2 separate regions of the Homo sapiens genome follow, and region 1 is linked to region 2. The links come from fine-mapping of genetic effects on gene expression. A gene starts in region 2. The other region holds a variant in brackets. All regions are shown on one strand. Distances are between the middles of the regions. Region 1 overlaps ABCC8 (ATP binding cassette subfamily C member 8). Region 2 holds the start of ABCC8 (ATP binding cassette subfamily C member 8).

Region 1 (8,323 bases), 82 kb after region 2:
GTGGGACATGTTGGCTCCTGGGGCTCCAGCCTTCGCAGCCCTTGTGTGTGTCTGGTGACGTGTGCATGAGTTGCAGGGCTGGAGTGGAGGCCTGGCTGAGCTGCTCTCTGCCCCGAAAAGGAGTGAGGTAGAACAGGGGCCTGTGGCTCTAACCCCTGAGCGCCCAGGTCAGCTCCTCTCCCTCCCCAGGAGTACATCGGTGCATGTGTGGTGCTCATCGCAGCGGTGACCTCCATCTCCAACTCCCTGCACAGGGAGCTCTCTGCTGGCCTGGTGGGCCTGGGCCTTACCTACGCCCTAATGGTGAGCGGCAGTGGGCTAGGGCAGAGGAGGGGTCAGACACCAGCACTCCCGGAGCACCTTCGTCACTGGAGACATGAGACACTCCCAGGCCTTACCCCAATTTCATTTGCATCTGATGCCAGAGGGACAGTGCGGGCAGGAAGGCTGACCAGCAGGCCCCAGGGCCCAGGCCCCAGACAGGTGGAGGTTGGGGAGCCACATGACTGACCCTCCCTGTGCCTCCAGGGAGGGCTGCTCTGAGCAGGCAGTGGATGGCAGCAAAAGGAATCTGGGGCCCTGGCCCCTCTCCAGCCTTAAGAAGAGCCATTCTGGTGGCTGAGGACAGAACTAAGCGACCATGGAGTGTGCGCCACTGGCTTGCTCCCCACAGGTCTCCAACTACCTCAACTGGATGGTGAGGAACCTGGCAGACATGGAGCTCCAGCTGGGGGCTGTGAAGCGCATCCATGGGCTCCTGAAAACCGAGGCAGAGAGCTACGAGGGGCTCCTGGGTGAGAGGCTCAGGGAGAGGGGTGGGGAAGAGTCCAAGGAGGAGTGTGTCTGGGTTGGGGGCCACAAGGGAGCCTGGGGATGGGGTGGCACTTTCGGATACTAGCTGTGGCCCATGCCTGGTGGCTGAGCCCAGCCCGGCCCCCAGCACCATCGCTGATCCCAAAGAACTGGCCAGACCAAGGGAAGATCCAGATCCAGAACCTGAGCGTGCGCTACGACAGCTCCCTGAAGCCGGTGCTGAAGCACGTCAATGCCCTCATCGCCCCTGGACAGAAGGTCAGAGCACGGGCCCAACCCAATGCTGCAGGACAGGCGTGAGCAGGGGATGGGGCATGCACGGAGCTGGATGGCTTCGCAGTCACCTCGTGGCCCTCCAGGGCCGAGGCCTCTCACTATTCAGACATCGCAGTCTCCTGCCCTGGGCCTGTGGGGGCCCATCTTTCCTCTCCTTCTATTGCCTTCCCCCAGTGCTGCCCTCAGGCCTTGTCTTCTCACTCATCCACCAAGGAGACCGACACTCTGGACTCCCCCAGCTCACACGGGCTTTGTCAGGGCCTCCCTCTCTGCGAATGGTCAGGGGCTTTCCCTAGGGCACTGCCCCGAGCTTCAGGGCAGGGACCTGGGGGCAGACAGCGAGGCCACCCTTGTATTGAGGGTGAGCCCCTGCCTATGGCCCTGGCCCAGCTCTCCTCTCGTTTCCCACTCTGTCTCTTTGTCTCTGTCTCACTTTGCTGTGGCTGTCCATGTCATTCTCTGACCTTGGGATGTACCTCTGTCCCTGCCTCTCTCATCCTTCTATGTCACTATCTGTCTCCGTATTGTAATTTCTGTTGGTACCCAAGTGCCAGGAAGCAACGGGATCAGAGGTGGCTCCATTGTAGGGCGGGGCACACAGACACATCCATGCATACCACTCTCAGCTGCCCCTGTGTCCTCCTGCCACACCCATGCCCATAGAGACACACCACTGCCCCCCAGCTCTCCTTCAGCCAAGTACCCGGCACACCCAGACCCACACCAAGGCCCAGGCAAATGGACATCCATGCCTGCACTTGCGTGCCGGTCCCTGTGTAAGCCCTCTCTGGACCCACTGCAGGAAACAAGCCCAAACCTGTGGTGTCCAAAGAGAAACTAGTCAGAAAACCAGGCCAAAAAGATACCCTGTGACCTCCCACACCTGCACACACACCCAGAGCTAGCATAGAGGCTATTCCCAGCAGCCCCAGAGTCCCAGTGGCGGTGCCTGCTTCTCTCTTTCCAGATCGGGATCTGCGGCCGCACCGGCAGTGGGAAGTCCTCCTTCTCTCTTGCCTTCTTCCGCATGGTGGACACGTTCGAAGGTGAGTTGTAAGGCGGGCACCCCACGTGTACCCACAGCCACCAGATGAGGCCTCAGCCCTGGCACGTGGTCAGACATGACAGGAGGCCCAGCAGTCACCGCCTTCCCCTGCACCCTCACTGGGACCCATGCAGGGCACATCATCATTGATGGCATTGACATCGCCAAACTGCCGCTGCACACCCTGCGCTCACGCCTCTCCATCATCCTGCAGGACCCCGTCCTCTTCAGCGGCACCATCCGGTGAGCCCCACCACCCCTCAGGCCCACCCAGCCCCAGGCCGGCTCAGTTCCATCAGATCTGGAGCACAAAGAGGAGGGGGTTGGGGGAGACCAGGATCCCAGAGGTGTTTCCTGCTCATGCCCTTCTCCATCCCATCAGGCCCAGGCAGCCTCTGGAAGGGGATCCCCCACCCATGGGTCTAAGATGCTGTCCCCCACCCACTGCCACCACCTCGGTGCTTCTCCCAGCCAGACCTCCAACTCAGTCTGCTCTCGCTCACTGCCCTCTTTGCCGCCTGGGGATGCAGGCAGGACCCTGCTCCCTCCCTACTGGGGCTTTCTGTGCCACTTCCAGATTTAACCTGGACCCTGAGAGGAAGTGCTCAGATAGCACACTGTGGGAGGCCCTGGAAATCGCCCAGCTGAAGCTGGTGGTGAAGGCACTGCCAGGAGGCCTCGGTAACTACTCCTGGCTATGCAGCTGGGTTGGTTGGGCACTCAAGGACCCTGTAAGGATGGCAGACAGAAGCCCGTGTCTCAGGTTTGCCCCAAGTTTGGAGTCTGAAGCCTGGCAGGACCATTTAGTCCTACTTCTCACTATACGGGGGCCCAGAGAGGTCAGGTGTCTTGCCCCAGGTCACACAACTGGTCAGTTCAGGGTCTGGCTCCTCCTGCAGGGTACAGCGGGTACAGTCAGGGATCCTTGTGAGACAGAGATTGCGAGTCCCCCATGCCAAGGGGGCATCTTCAGCCCTGCCCTGCCCCATCCACCTGCATGCCCAGTTCTGCCTTAGGGGAGGAGAAGATGGACTGGGCAATCATAGACACGGGTCACTCATCAAGGCCACCGGTGATTGGCAAAGCCTTGGTATATTTGCTGCAGCTCCTGGAGCATTGGGGGTGGCCAAGCCTTGGTTTCAATGAATCACCCTACCAAGGCCCTACATACACACTCAGTGCACCCCTCAGTGCACACGCCCCCTCCCAGAACTGCCCAGGGCCACAGCAGCACACACCTCCAGGGGTGCCCTTCTCGTTGCAGTCCTTGCAGACGGCCTCCACATTGTTGTGTCAGGTGCACCAGCCCTGCACACGCCTGTGCTCTTGGACACACACCCACCTATTTGCCCCCATGCACACATTTTCCAACAGCCCCCCAAGCCATCCCATCTGCTCCACTCACAGCACAAGATTAACTCAGTCCTACTTCATCTCCCCGGGCTGTTTTCAGATGCCATCATCACAGAAGGCGGGGAGAATTTCAGCCAGGGACAGAGGCAGCTGTTCTGCCTGGCCCGGGCCTTCGTGAGGAAGACCAGCATCTTCATCATGGACGAGGCCACGGCTTCCATTGACATGGCCACGGTTGGTCCTGGGCCCCTCCATGGGACCATGGTCTTGGAAAGGGTTTAGTGGGATGCTAGGGAGAAATTTGCACGAAGTAGTCCTGAGGCTCAAGTTGCCTCTAACATCAAATGCTATGTGTTGCAGAAAATGAAAAGAGCTGGGGGGACCCTGACTCTGTCTAGTCTTAGGGAATGTTACACACACACACGCACACACAAAAACACTATGCAAACACACACATAAGCTGCACACACAGACCCACACAGACTTCACACTGTCACCTATCACAACAGCACACACACAGCCACAACCACAACCTACATACACACACAGAGCTGAGCTCCCAACAGGCTGAGTCCAGTCCCTGAGTGCCGGGAACCTGTTCAGTCCTGTGGGGTGGGGGTGGGACTAGGATCGGGGTCAGATGGGAGCTGAGCCACAGACCTGGGCTCCACATCCCCCAAGCCAGGCCAGACCCCATCCACTGGGCAGGTGAGCCAACAGCTGTTGCCCCCACTTGGCAGGAAAACATCCTCCAAAAGGTGGTGATGACAGCCTTCGCAGACCGCACTGTGGTCACCATCGCGGTAAGGGGCCCATTGATGGGGTGCAGAGGGACACCCAGGGACAGGACTGGCCTGTTGTGGCCGTCATCAGTGCACAGCCCCTGGGCTTGCCTGGTCCCAGTAATCAAGAAAGAACCCTGAAGCAGGCAGTTCAGGGCAAGGGGCCTGGAGGGCATGCAGGGAGCCTGGGTTGCAGGATTTGGGGTGGGGGGTTTTGCCCCTGTGCTTCCCTCAGACCTCCCCTCTCCTTCTCCAGGTTCCAAGGCCTGCCCCTGTCCCAAGGCCTTATATGTTAGGCTGGCGTTACTTCTCCATAGGAAGTGGGGGAGGGGTTGTGGAGGGTCTCTGAGCCTTGAAGCCTGGAGGTGGGGTAGAGTTGGGACTTGGAGAGGAGAGAAGGGTGGTATTAGCAGATGGAGAGCTTGTAGTCACATCCACCCCAGGAAAGTGCAGTCCCCACAGTGACAGGACATTCTGGCCACATGC[CT/T]CATCCTCCTCCTCCAAGCCGCAGGAGGGCCACCCTCAGCTGTGGCCCCCACCGCGGGTGGTATTCCCACCATCCTGACCCGCCCCCTCCTGCCCTGCCCAGCATCGAGTGCACACCATCCTGAGTGCAGACCTGGTGATCGTCCTGAAGCGGGGTGCCATCCTTGAGTTCGATAAGCCAGAGAAGCTGCTCAGCCGGAAGGACAGCGTCTTCGCCTCCTTCGTCCGTGCAGACAAGTGACCTGCCAGAGCCCAAGTGCCATCCCACATTCGGACCCTGCCCATACCCCTGCCTGGGTTTTCTAACTGTAAATCACTTGTAAATAAATAGATTTGATTATTTCCTACTAGAGGCCCTAAGTCTGGTGGGCAGGGGCTGGCGGTGGATGGTGGGTTCAGTAGAACCAGCCTGGCTCTGACATCAGGCAGAAGCTGTGTGAGCAAAAGCCTGCTTCCTTACCTGTGAAATGAGGCCTCTATTAGTCAGCCAGGCTGCCACAACAACATATCACAGACTGGGTGGCTTTAAAACAGACTTTTTTCTCACAGTTCTGGAGGCTGAAGTCTGGGATCAAGGTGTTGGCAGGTTTGGTTTCTCCTGAGGCCTCTCTCCTTGGCTTGCAGAGGGCTGCCTTCTGGCTGTGTGCTCACATGACCTTTACTCTGTGCACATGCATCCCTGCTTTCTCTCTGTGTCTTAAAAGGACACCAGTCATATTGGATTAGGGCCCCACCCCTATTACCTCATTAAACCTTAATTATCTCCTCACAGGCCCTGTTTCCAAATACAGTTACATTGTAGGATTAGGCTTCAACCTGTGAATTTGGCAGGACACAATTATGTCCATAGCAAGGGTGATAGCATTTCTGCAATGAGCTTATCAGATAAGGTAACAGATCTCCATACAGCTTGGTCTCCTTTCTTCTCACTTTCATTCTTGAATTAAAATCTGGATTAACACTATTTCAATTGCAAATGACAGGAACCCAATTCAAAGTAACCTAAGCAGAAACTGAATTTATTGAATATGTGACTGACAAGGCTAAGAGGTATACTACTTCAAGCATGGCTGGACCCAGGTGTTTGACATCCATCTGGGATGTGTCTTCCTTTCTGGGTTCCATTTTCCTCCCCTTTCATTATGACAGATGGCCACTAGCAGGTCCAGCTTACATCCTGCCCCAAGGCAACCCAAGAGGCAAAACAGATACTCCTTCCCAATAGTTCCAGCAAAAGCTTGGGAGCAAATCTCAATGCACCAACTTGGATCACATTCCCATCCCCACCCCACTGTGATCAGAGGGGTGGCATACACTGGCTGGCTAGGCCTGGATCATGTCTCCATCTCCATCCCTCAAGCAGGGGCATTCAGAAGTGGAAAGGTGGTCCTTCAGAGGGAAAGCACAGTGCATGAGTCACAGGTCAGCCAGGTGGTGTCTGGGAGACGCTGGAGCCCAGACACCAGGGAGACTAAAACAGCAGCTGTCCTGACTTCCTCTGCATCACGAAACAAGAGTGCACACCTGCCCTTGGCCAAGAAATGGCAGGTGCTCATTTACATCTCATTTTATGATCATTTGCATATCATCTGCAGTACTGGCTGCACCAAGCCCTGAGGTGCAGACCTAAGAGTCTTGAACCTGCATCCTCTTGGCTGCAAGGGGATCATAGAGGCACAACATAAGAAAAGCCCACCAGTTATCGGAGGCAGGTCCAGTGCAGACCCCTGTGGATGTTCCAGGAGCCAGAGAAGCTCGGAAAGGAAGAGCTCTGTAAAGCCTGGCAGCCTGCCTGGAAAAGACAAAATTTGAGTTAAATATTGTGGGGGATAGGGATTGGTTAGGCAGAAAGTCAGAGAAAGGGTTGGGGTGGCAGGTAGGGACAGCAGGAGCTAAGGAGTGATGGTGGAAGTGTGTTAAGAGTGTTGGTTGATCAGGGAGGTGGGAGAGAGATTACAGCAGTGGGGAGGGCATCATATCAGAGAGCCCTGAATGCCAGAGCAAGGAGTGTGGGCTATGCCCATGGACAAAAAGGGAGAAGGGTTTTGAGCAAGAAAGCGACTTGACAAGTTCAGTATTTGGTGGAGATGACTATAAGCAAGTGCAGGATGGAGCAAAAGGGGAGGCTGAGCCTTTCAGGTGGGAGACTCAGCCTCTCAGAAGGGTGAGCAGCAGGGAGGGAGGTAAGGCCTCAAGGCTGCACCAGGAGGCAGAACCCAGCCTTTCCAGCTCTGAGATTTCCCCAGGGGCCCAGCAGCTTCCTCCACTGTGAGATCTCCCAAGAGCAGAGCCGGGGAACTGAAAGAGGACTCCACAAGCCTACCACTGCTCCAAAGCCACCCCACCTCAACAGATTGAAGGGAAGTAGCAGGGGCAGGGCTGGGCCCACAGTGAGGTGTTGCAGGGATGCCCAAGGTCATCCTGGCCCAAAATCCCTGTATAACATCCCTCATGGCCCACCGACTTGATTTGGGTACCCCACAGATGTGGCTCATCTCTGGTTATTGTTATTAGAACTGACTCTTGCATATGTGAAACCAAAGCCTGCCTCTGTTCCACTTAGTGTCCTGGTTCTACCCTTTGGGCCACAAAAAACTACTAGTTCATCCTCCTTCAAGGCCAGGTGTTTCTGCAATAGTGCCCAAATCCCTGGGGGACTTTCCTTTTCTGATGGCTGGACAGTTGTAGTTGCCTCAGAGATTTCCCCATGTAACCCTGTCTCCTTGAGCTTCCCACTCTGCTCATCTCATTTTACCCTCCCCTTCCTAGACACTGCATCTTTGTTAATATAGCCCATGATCACACCCATCCTTTGTAGCGGTGTTCGCTCTGCCTGCAGGTGGGTAGGGAGAGAAAGGAAAATCCAATATAAAATGCATATCTTGCCCCCACTGTGGCCCACAGCCACACTGCCTTTTCCAGACCCTGTCTCAAGCCCCCACTCCAACAAAATGGCCGCAGATGGTCAGGGGTTCTTCCATAAGGATCTGAGCCACAGACAGCGGTAAAGCCGTTACTGTTCCAACAACAGAGATCTAGCAGGCTTTCCCTCCCAGCTGAGAACCCGGGTCCATGCCACAGGGCAGCCTCAGGCTGATGCCTGAACAGAAACACCACCATGCCGGGACCAAGAGCCTGGGTCCCCCAGTGCCCGAGGCAGCCCTAACACACTGTTCAGGCCTAAATACCACCCATGACCTAACGTGGAAGAAGTCAGGTGACAGGTGTGAGAAAGTGTAAAGCAAGTGGCCTCGGCTCAAACCTTCTTTAAAGTAGGGCCGGAATGGCTGAGAAGATGGAGCCGCCCAGGCTGCCCCACAGCAGTAGCAGGTGTTAAACTGTGCTCCTTTCCTGCCGAGGCCTTTTTTTTTTTTTTTTTTTTTTTTTTTTTTAATGAGAGGGAGTCTGAGCTTCCATCAGATTGTCAAAGGATTCAAGACTAAGATTAAGAGCATCCCCCAAAGAGAAGCAGCTGCAGGTTGAGAAGTCCTCGGACCGCCTAATTTCCGCCAGCCCTGGGATTGGTGGCGCCGCCTCTCAGCGCCTCCTTTCCCGGGGAACCTGCAAA
Region 2 (8,323 bases):
TTCCCTCCTCCTGACATGGGGCAGGATGGAGATGAGACAGGAGATCACTTCTCCCTCCCAGGTTCCAGTTAAGACATTTTGTCTCTACATCAGTCCTCTCTTTCACTGGTTCTACAGTCTTCCAAGTTCCCCTGTGGATACAGGCTTTGAGCACCTGAAGGAGACAGGAAAGGACACACCTTTCCCAGTCAGTAAGGGTCACCCGAACTTAGGCTCTGTACTTGTTCTCCACTATTCCATAGTATAGGTCACACCATGAGTTTTGCTTTTGTCTGTTTTTAACCAGGCCGCTGTTGATTGTGGTTATTGAAAGGGTTTATTTCTTCAACTATAACCCCACTCCATTACGTCACCATTGTCATTGTAATGACCCCCTCTGCCATGGTCACTGGAACACTGGCACTCCTAGTCAGCCAGATAGAGACAAAGGCACTAAGGCCAGAACAACATCAGAGCTGGAAGGGACTTTTTGTTTGTTTGTTTTGTTTTGTTTTGTTTTGAGACAGGGTCTCTCTCTGTCGCCCAGGCTGGAGTGCAGTGGCCCGATCATGGCTCACGGCAGCCTTAACCTCCCTGGCTCAAGGGATCTGGAAAGGACTTTTCTGAAGCTCTGCACCAGCCCCTTTACTGCACCCTGCCTGAGGCCACACCCACCCAGTAGCCGGTGAGTGTGAGAATCCAATCCCGGAAATCCAGCCCTAGTTTTCATTTTGCCAGGAGAATGGCTGGGAATTCTCAGAGCGGGGTACCCTTGCTCAAAGCAAGCTCTCAGAGTCTGACCTTCTTCCAGCCCCTAGCAAGAGAAACAAAAGGCATGGCTAGAGGTGGGGAAGCACCAGAGACCCAGCATCTCCCCGACAGAGGCAGACGTAGCCCTGTTACAGACATGAATGATTTTGTATGCCACACACCGCTCTGCGTCTGTGTCTTGGACATCTTCCCCTGCCAGTAAGCATAACTCTATTCTCTGCGCTTGCTCCACAGTATCCCACAGTACAGACAATATCTGTTTTTTGTCTGTTTGGGTTTTGTCTGTTTGAACCAGCCCCATACTGATGAGCATTTGGGTTGATTCCAGGAATACAACCCATATACTACAAAGGAAGTCCTTTCATGCCTCCGTGCGCACCTGACTCCACACTTTTTCAAAGTAATTCTCCCACCCACATGGTGGGCAGTGTGGTGCATGTCCTCAGTGTAGACCTAGGTGCAGGGAAAGGTGGAATTTGTCCACAGTCACACAGTAAGTTTGTGCTAGAGATGGCAAACACGAGTCCCCAAGACTCCAGACTTAACACTCTCTTAGTCCCAGTTGATGCTCCCTTAACACCAGACTTTTTGTTTGTTTCAAATGACCCAGAATAGGCAAGTGTGAGGGTTGCACCAGGCAATGTGGGGTGAGGGAGAGACCATTAAATAACCCTGATTGATCAAGGGGCTGCCGTGTGTAGTCACCCATGGGATGAAGTAGCTTGGACTATCTCCCCAACTTGCAAAGCACATTCATACCCATGATCTCATCTTAATCTTCTGGGTTCCATATTATTATCTTTTCCATTTAGAAATAAGGAAACTGAAGTGCAGAATGGTAACCTGCCCCCAAATCACACAACTAGTAGTAGTAGAGCCAGGACTAGGAGCCCTGTTCTTTAAAAGTAAATATATTATTACTGCTAAAAAGAAAGATAGCATTGCTGAAAGTGTGAAAAAACTGAAATTGTAACTACAAAAGAAAATAACAACATTGCAGAAAATATGAAAAAAAAAAACCTTGAAAGCAAGAAAAACAAACTAAAAGAAAAAATCTTACTGGGTGACCATGGACCTGTCATCTCATCTCTCTGAACCTCAGTTGTCTCATTTTTAAAGAAAGGGAATGAGGATAAGCACAGCGACGGCAGCCAGTACATACTGAGCACCGCCTTACCAAATTTCCAAGTCTGACCTTTCCCTGCAGGCTTCATGCAAGTATACATATTTCGTACGGCTATAATCATGGGAAGCACAATTTTGTTTGCCGTTTTTCACCTGACACTATCTTGTAAAGTTTTTCTATTGACTACACAGACTCAGCTAGCACCGTCCCAGCAGTTGCATTTTTCAAGGTTGATTAACCCCTGTCCCTGGTGCTGGATATTTCTTGCCACCAAGTTTTCACTATTTTGGCTGATGCTGCAAGAAACATCTTTTGGCTTCTGAGAAATTCTCCAAAGTCAGAGACTGAGGCATTCAGACCCTGAACTCCTGCTTTCCCAAGGCTTTTCACCCAACCCCATCTGCCCTCTGCCTCAGGGCCTGGGCAGAGCCTCGGCCTTGCTGACAGCGTGCTGGAGAGGCTCACCAGGCTCAGCAGCCTCAGGGCAGGCTCAGTGAAGCTTGTAGGCAAAGGGGCTGAAGGGGTCTTTCTTTTGTGTTCCCCTGACTGTTCCTAAGAACATGTGCATTTATGCTTCATACCCTAACTAGGAAAGTTCTCCTTAAATCTAACCCCCAAATCCCATCTTCTGTTCTTTCTACATACAATATAAACTTCTTTGGGCCACAGTCTTGTGAGAATCTCTCCAAAACGTATAGGAAGACATAATGTTGTCTTTACAATTGCACGGTGTCCTCCAACTGTTAAGCCTGTCCCAGGTGAGGTTAAGAATTTCAGTCCCTCTCCACTGCCTCACATCCATCTGGCCAGATGCGTTTCTTAAACTCCTCTTTATCAGCCTGGGGCTGTCACCCATTCTACCCATTGGTCTGCCAGTCGCTGTAAGGTTGTCATGTACCAGAGGCATGAGTACAAATGATGGGGGTGGGGACGGGGGACCTGAGGAGCTGGGTTCAAGCTATGCTTCCCTGCTTGCTGGCACTGAGACCTTGGGGGAAGTCATGTTACTGGCCTCCCTTCAGCTCCCTCGCAGCTTGGGTTTCCCCATCAGAAAATTGGAAGCGATTAGAACCTGTACTTAGCAAGAGTTCTGGGACATCCCTTGTGTGAAAGTGCCAGATACGCTGTAAAGCAGTACCTAGGAGTGCCCCACCTGGGACCACTTTTGAAAATGTCCAAGCCCCACCCCACCACCACCACCACCACAAGGTAACGTTCTGCCCCACTTTTCTCATCCATGTTGGGTGGAGACTTGCGCCATCCCTCGGCTCTCTACATCCATCCGCACCACGCCCAGGTGAACTCACACTCGGGACCCTGAACCCGCCCACTCCAGGCCTTGCGGGCCCTTCTCTCCTCTTCTGCACGCCCCACCCTCCTTTCCCACCCAGACTCCAGTGTGCCCACACCCCACTCCCCATCTTAGCCTGCCTTTCCCCTCTCCCCCAGCGCACGCGTGCATCAGGGCACTCACGAAGCCACCCCGGCAACATCTGGGAGCACGCGCCTCCACATCTGGAAGGTGGGCGCAAGCGTAGCAGGGCCGGTCGGGTTCCTCGCCGCCCCCCGGCCCCGCAGGTGGTGGAGCAGGGCGGGGTGAGGGAGGGGGAGGCCAGCGGGGCTGGGCGGGGCCCGGGGGGCGGGGGCCTGACGGCCGGGCCGGGCGGCGGAGCTGCAAGGGACAGAGGCGCGGCAGGCGCGCGGAGCCAGCGGAGCCAGCTGAGCCCGAGCCCAGCCCGCGCCCGCGCCGCCATGCCCCTGGCCTTCTGCGGCAGCGAGAACCACTCGGCCGCCTACCGGGTGGACCAGGGGGTCCTCAACAACGGCTGCTTTGTGGACGCGCTCAACGTGGTGCCGCACGTCTTCCTACTCTTCATCACCTTCCCCATCCTCTTCATTGGTGAGTGCGCGCAGCGAGCCGCGGAGGAGGGGACGGGAGAGCAGGGAGGGAGGAGGAGGCGCTGCGCGCCGCACCGCTCGGCGTCCCCTTCCGGCCCGCGACCGCCGTCCGCCTCGTTCCCGGGGTCCCCTGCCCTGTGTCCTGCCCGCCGGTCCCCGCACTCGCACACCAGCTCATCCCTTCACTCCCCCGGTGCCCCCGATCCCGCGCCAAACACAGCGGACGTTTGTGACCCATGGGATCACCAAGTTTTGCTTCTGCAGGGCCAAGAGCTGGGATGGGGAAAAGGGAAAGAGGAGGTCTCAGCACGCAGTGGGAAACTGGAGAGGGGTCGGGCCTCACCCTCCGTGGCGCAGCTTAGGGAGCCGGGTCACCCCTCCCGCAAGGCAGCCTCCCTGTCAGCCGCAGCTGGGCCTAGGGAAGAGGGAAGCCTGTGCTTTGGAGTCTGGGATGGAGGCCCAGCTAACCCCTATGCTTTCACCGGGCTGAGCCGCGCAGTGGTCCGTGATCTCTGACAGTCCCAGGCCCGCGCCCTGGGCGAGGAGAGGCGAGAGCTAGGGACTTGGATTCCCTTCCCCCGCCACCCCACCCGGGCATGTGTCTCCAGAGCGCAACTTCTCAGGCTCTGCGCAAAGTAGCTCCGACTCGCCGACGCAGCGACCCCGGCGCCCTTGCTTGCAAAGTTGGGCGCCACGGCCGGGACAATCGTGCGTGCCTCTCCACTGAGGTCCCCCCCATCTCTCTCCAAGACCTTGACTCTTCCAGACCAGTCAAGTCTATCAACTCATAGGGTGTCCCCTGCATCCCCAAAACGTGTTCATTCACTTTAAGAAAACAAGCAAATCTTAAAATTCATATACAGCTTTGGGGAAGAAAGGAAAGATTGTCACAAAATTAGATTTACAAGAGGTTGCTGCAGAAGCAGAGTTGCTAGTTATTAACAAAGACAGTTAGATAGAAATAGAAATAAAACATACAAAATATGTGCTCATATGTGCATCAAAAATCAAAAAAGAACAGCATTTACACTTCTGTTCTCAGCCAAACGGTTTATTAACCTGATGACTTGTCACACAAGAAGTTAGTATGTATAATGGGGTACCTTGGCAGGGCACAGTGGCTTACATCTGTAATCTCAGCATTTTGGTGGGCTGTGACAGGAAGACTGCTTGAGTCCAGGAGTTCGAGACCAGCCTGGGCAACATAGTGAGACCCCCCCCGCCCTTTCTACAAAAAATTAAAAATTAGCTGAGCATGGTGATGTGCGCCTGTAGTCCCAGCTACTCAGGAGGCTGAGGCGGGAGGATCACTTGAGCCTAGGAGATCAAGGCTGTAGTGAGCCGTGATCGTGGCACTGCACTCCAGCAGAGGCAACAGAGCAAGACCCTGTCTCAGTAAAAAGGTGTGGTGGGGGAGGTACCAGCATAGGACCAGGCTGAATGAGTTGGACGTTTAGTTTGTGTGTACCAGCCTTGGGGATCCTCATGTGTAGGTGTCACCCTCACCATGGACCCAATGCCCAAGCACCTTTCTGGGGTTCATGCACCCTCTTCCTCCTCCAAGTGGGCAGGCATCCTGCCTCTGACTGTCTCTCCCTGCAGGATGGGGAAGTCAGAGCTCCAAGGTGCACATCCACCACAGCACATGGCTTCATTTCCCTGGGCACAACCTGCGGTGGATCCTGACCTTCATGCTGCTCTTCGTCCTGGTGTGTGAGATTGCAGAGGGCATCCTGTCTGATGGGTGAGTGACTGTCTGAGGACTCAGGAAAGTGAATCTGCTCCAGGGTACTTCCTGAAAGGCCCAAGGAGATCCTAGCTCACCTATATTCCACAAGCCCATGTCTTTTGTTACTACATCCAGCAGCTCAGTGTCTTCTATGTGCCAACCTCTCTGAGCTGGGCACTGGACGCAAGTGAGTCCCAGGCCCTGCCATCAGTCCAGGAGAGCAGAGGGAACACGGACCTGCATGCCAAGTCCCAGTGAAATAATGCTAGAGCCTATTAGAATGCCACAACTCCAGTGAAAAATGTCTGGCCTCTTCTACAACCTGCCGGAGTTACCTTCTTGGAAAAAAAAAAAAATCTAACCATGCCACCCACTCTTGCATAAGACCTTTCCTTGGTTCTCAGCTGTTTTGAAGATGTGGTCTCAGATCCTCAGCCCACCATTCAAGGTCTTCACAGTCAGCCCCACCTATCTCTGGCCTCATTCCCCATGCCCACCTTCCGTTTGGGCCTCACAGCACACTCCTCACACCTCTGCTACAGCACAGATCACACTGTATGTTAAAGTTTATGTCTATTTGCAAAACTGTCTTCAGAGTCAGAAAGGCCTAAGAGTTAGAATCTGAGTCTTGTTCATCTTTGTGTTCACAGTGCAAGGCATGTGATAAACATAAACATTATTCAGTCCATAAACATTTATTGGGTCCTTAGGAGAATGAATGAAACCATGTTACAAATAAGTACTCTGGGAGGTGAGAGGAAGGCAGAATTGGGCAAGCTCCATGGTTGAGAGGGCTTTGGAGCGGAGTCTGGAAGGGTGACTAGGCTTCAGACACACAGAGGAGGAAGGAGAGAGAGAACTGGTGGTGCCTGAGGGAAGGGAAAAGGCACCAAAGAGAAAAGCAGGTAGGGCTAGGGAGCAGCGCAGGGGCTGGAGCATTAAACACAGGCTGGGGAGCGATGGAGGCTGAGGCTGGGAACCCAGGTTGGGGCATCTCAGGAGGACTGTGAATCCCAGCCTGCATGTTTGGGTCGGATTTGGTCAGCAGTTTGGAACAGAAGAGAGATGTCATCAGCATAACACTTTTAGGTGGGAACCTGAGGTGTTCAGCGCAGGCTGGAGGCAGGGAGAATCTAGAGGTATAATAGAAGCAGGACTTAGCATTGACTGCAGTAGTCTAGGTGAGCAATAACTGCAGACAGAAATGGTGTGTCAGCAGTCAGGGACAGAAGAGGAGCGGGAGCAGCCATCTCACTAAGGAAGAATCCAGTAACCAGCAAGGATGAGAGACTGCCAGGAGAGGGAGTGGTGGAGGAGAGGGATATTTGGCTTGAGTATCTGAGGTCCAGCGCCCCCTGAGCTGGAATCAGATTATACCCAGACTGCACTCCTGCAGTGCTGCCTGGCTCCTGTAGTTGGATGGCAGGGGATAGGCTCCCTCATCCTCCCTCCCGTTCCCCACCTTCCCTTCCCCAATGTCCCTGCATCCTGGCTTCAGCAGTGATCTCTAAAATACCTGCTTGACTTGGAGGCAGCAGCTCTGCCTGCTTATTAAAGTCCCTAGACCAGCAAGAAGACCAGAAGGCATACTGCTACACAAGCACGTGACAAGTCCGCCTCCACCCCCACCCCTACACCCCTTCCAAAGTAGCACAAATGCCACAGTGAGCCCTCAGATGGGAAATACTCACCAGATGGTGACAGAGAAAGACACCTCCGCCCTTGGAGAAGGAAGACCTGGGTCTTCAGTGAGCACTGCTGCTGTGTACCAGCTATGGGACTTTGCACAAGTCATTCAGGCTTTCTGGGCCTCATAAGCATTTATAAACATACGATAAAACATTTTAGTTGCCAACTTAAAAATGTGTGAGAAAGTATAAGGTGTTTCAAAATTATTTCAAGGAGTAAAGAGGCAAGAGTTTTGAAGATCCCTGGGCAGGGTGTTGGCTGTTCCCAGTGTGGCCATTCATGACTGCTCTCTGGCCTTATGAAACAAGCATCATAGTCCCTGGCTTGCCTGCTTCATGGGGCTGTGGAGGGTGAAATTCGAGCATGGACAGGGTGCAGAGCCCGGAGTGGCAGAGCACTGGGTAGACTGTGTATTCCCAGAATGTGGGAAACTGGAATGAATCGGTCCAGGGATGCCCTCCTGCTGGCTGTCAGCAGCCCCTCCTGTGTGTGGCTGTACTGCTTCAGCTCAGTGCAAAGGGCCATCTCCTCCCCAGGGCACAGATCAGCTCAAGCTGAGTAATTGTCATCTGGTCTTTGTGAGCTCCTACCCCCAGGCCTGAGTGAGGGGCAGGAAAAGAGCAGACAGGAGAAGTCACAGACCCTTGTGATACCTCCAGTCTAATCCAGCCTGGGTTTTCAGAGCTGTCTGGAAATTTAGGGGGCAGGTGGGAGGGGGCTGATTAAGGCAGCCCTGATTTGATTTAGAGTGAGCCTCATTTAGTGACTAATTAAGCCATCTTAAACCTGTAGGGCTTCCCCTCTTCCTTTGGGTATTATTTCTTTCTGTGATGTTCTGAATTCAGAACAATCAAAACAGTATAAGTTAGTGAAGAAGATATTTTTTAATAACTACAATATTTTCCCAGACCACCATACACTGGATAAAGCCTGTATATAAAACTTTACCTAATTTCTTAACTAATTGAATGTGTATTATTTAACAAAGCAGCTAAAAACTATTCTATGAAGCCATGTCATGAAATATTTAGTTCAATTATGGTTAATCCTCATCTTATTTCGTCTTATAAAATTTTAACATTTCTACCTCCTATTGCAAAAAAAAGCATTTATATCAGCATATAATAAAA

Evidence for each region. PIP is the estimated chance that this variant, and not a neighbour inherited with it, causes the effect.
Region 1: its variant is the best candidate, but not a certain one, in a credible set for the expression of ABCC8 in anterior cingulate cortex (GTEx, PIP 0.55).

Annotation. Positions count from the first base shown.
Region 1 is chr11:17,389,664-17,397,986 of GRCh38, reverse strand. It overlaps ABCC8 (ATP binding cassette subfamily C member 8), which reads left to right. Exons shown (of 39, transcript NM_000352.6): 31 at 190-303; 32 at 674-794; 33 at 941-1,071; 34 at 2,057-2,135; 35 at 2,269-2,377; 36 at 2,712-2,815; 37 at 3,588-3,721; 38 at 4,228-4,290; 39 at 4,859-5,102. The coding sequence ends at 4,996. Among named protein-coding and RNA genes, the nearest start is that of KCNJ11, 5.2 kb to the right of the region's middle. RefSeq lists a silencer at 8,248-8,323. The variant CT/T (reference allele first, on the strand shown) is at 4,756.
Region 2 is chr11:17,472,082-17,480,404 of GRCh38, reverse strand. It overlaps ABCC8 (ATP binding cassette subfamily C member 8), which reads left to right and starts at 3,560. Exons shown (of 39, transcript NM_000352.6): 1 at 3,560-3,776; 2 at 5,378-5,519. The coding sequence starts at 3,629. It overlaps LOC124902641 (a long non-coding RNA gene), which reads right to left and starts at 3,754. Exons shown (of 2, transcript XR_007062609.1): 1 at 3,674-3,754. RefSeq lists an enhancer at 4,348-4,904.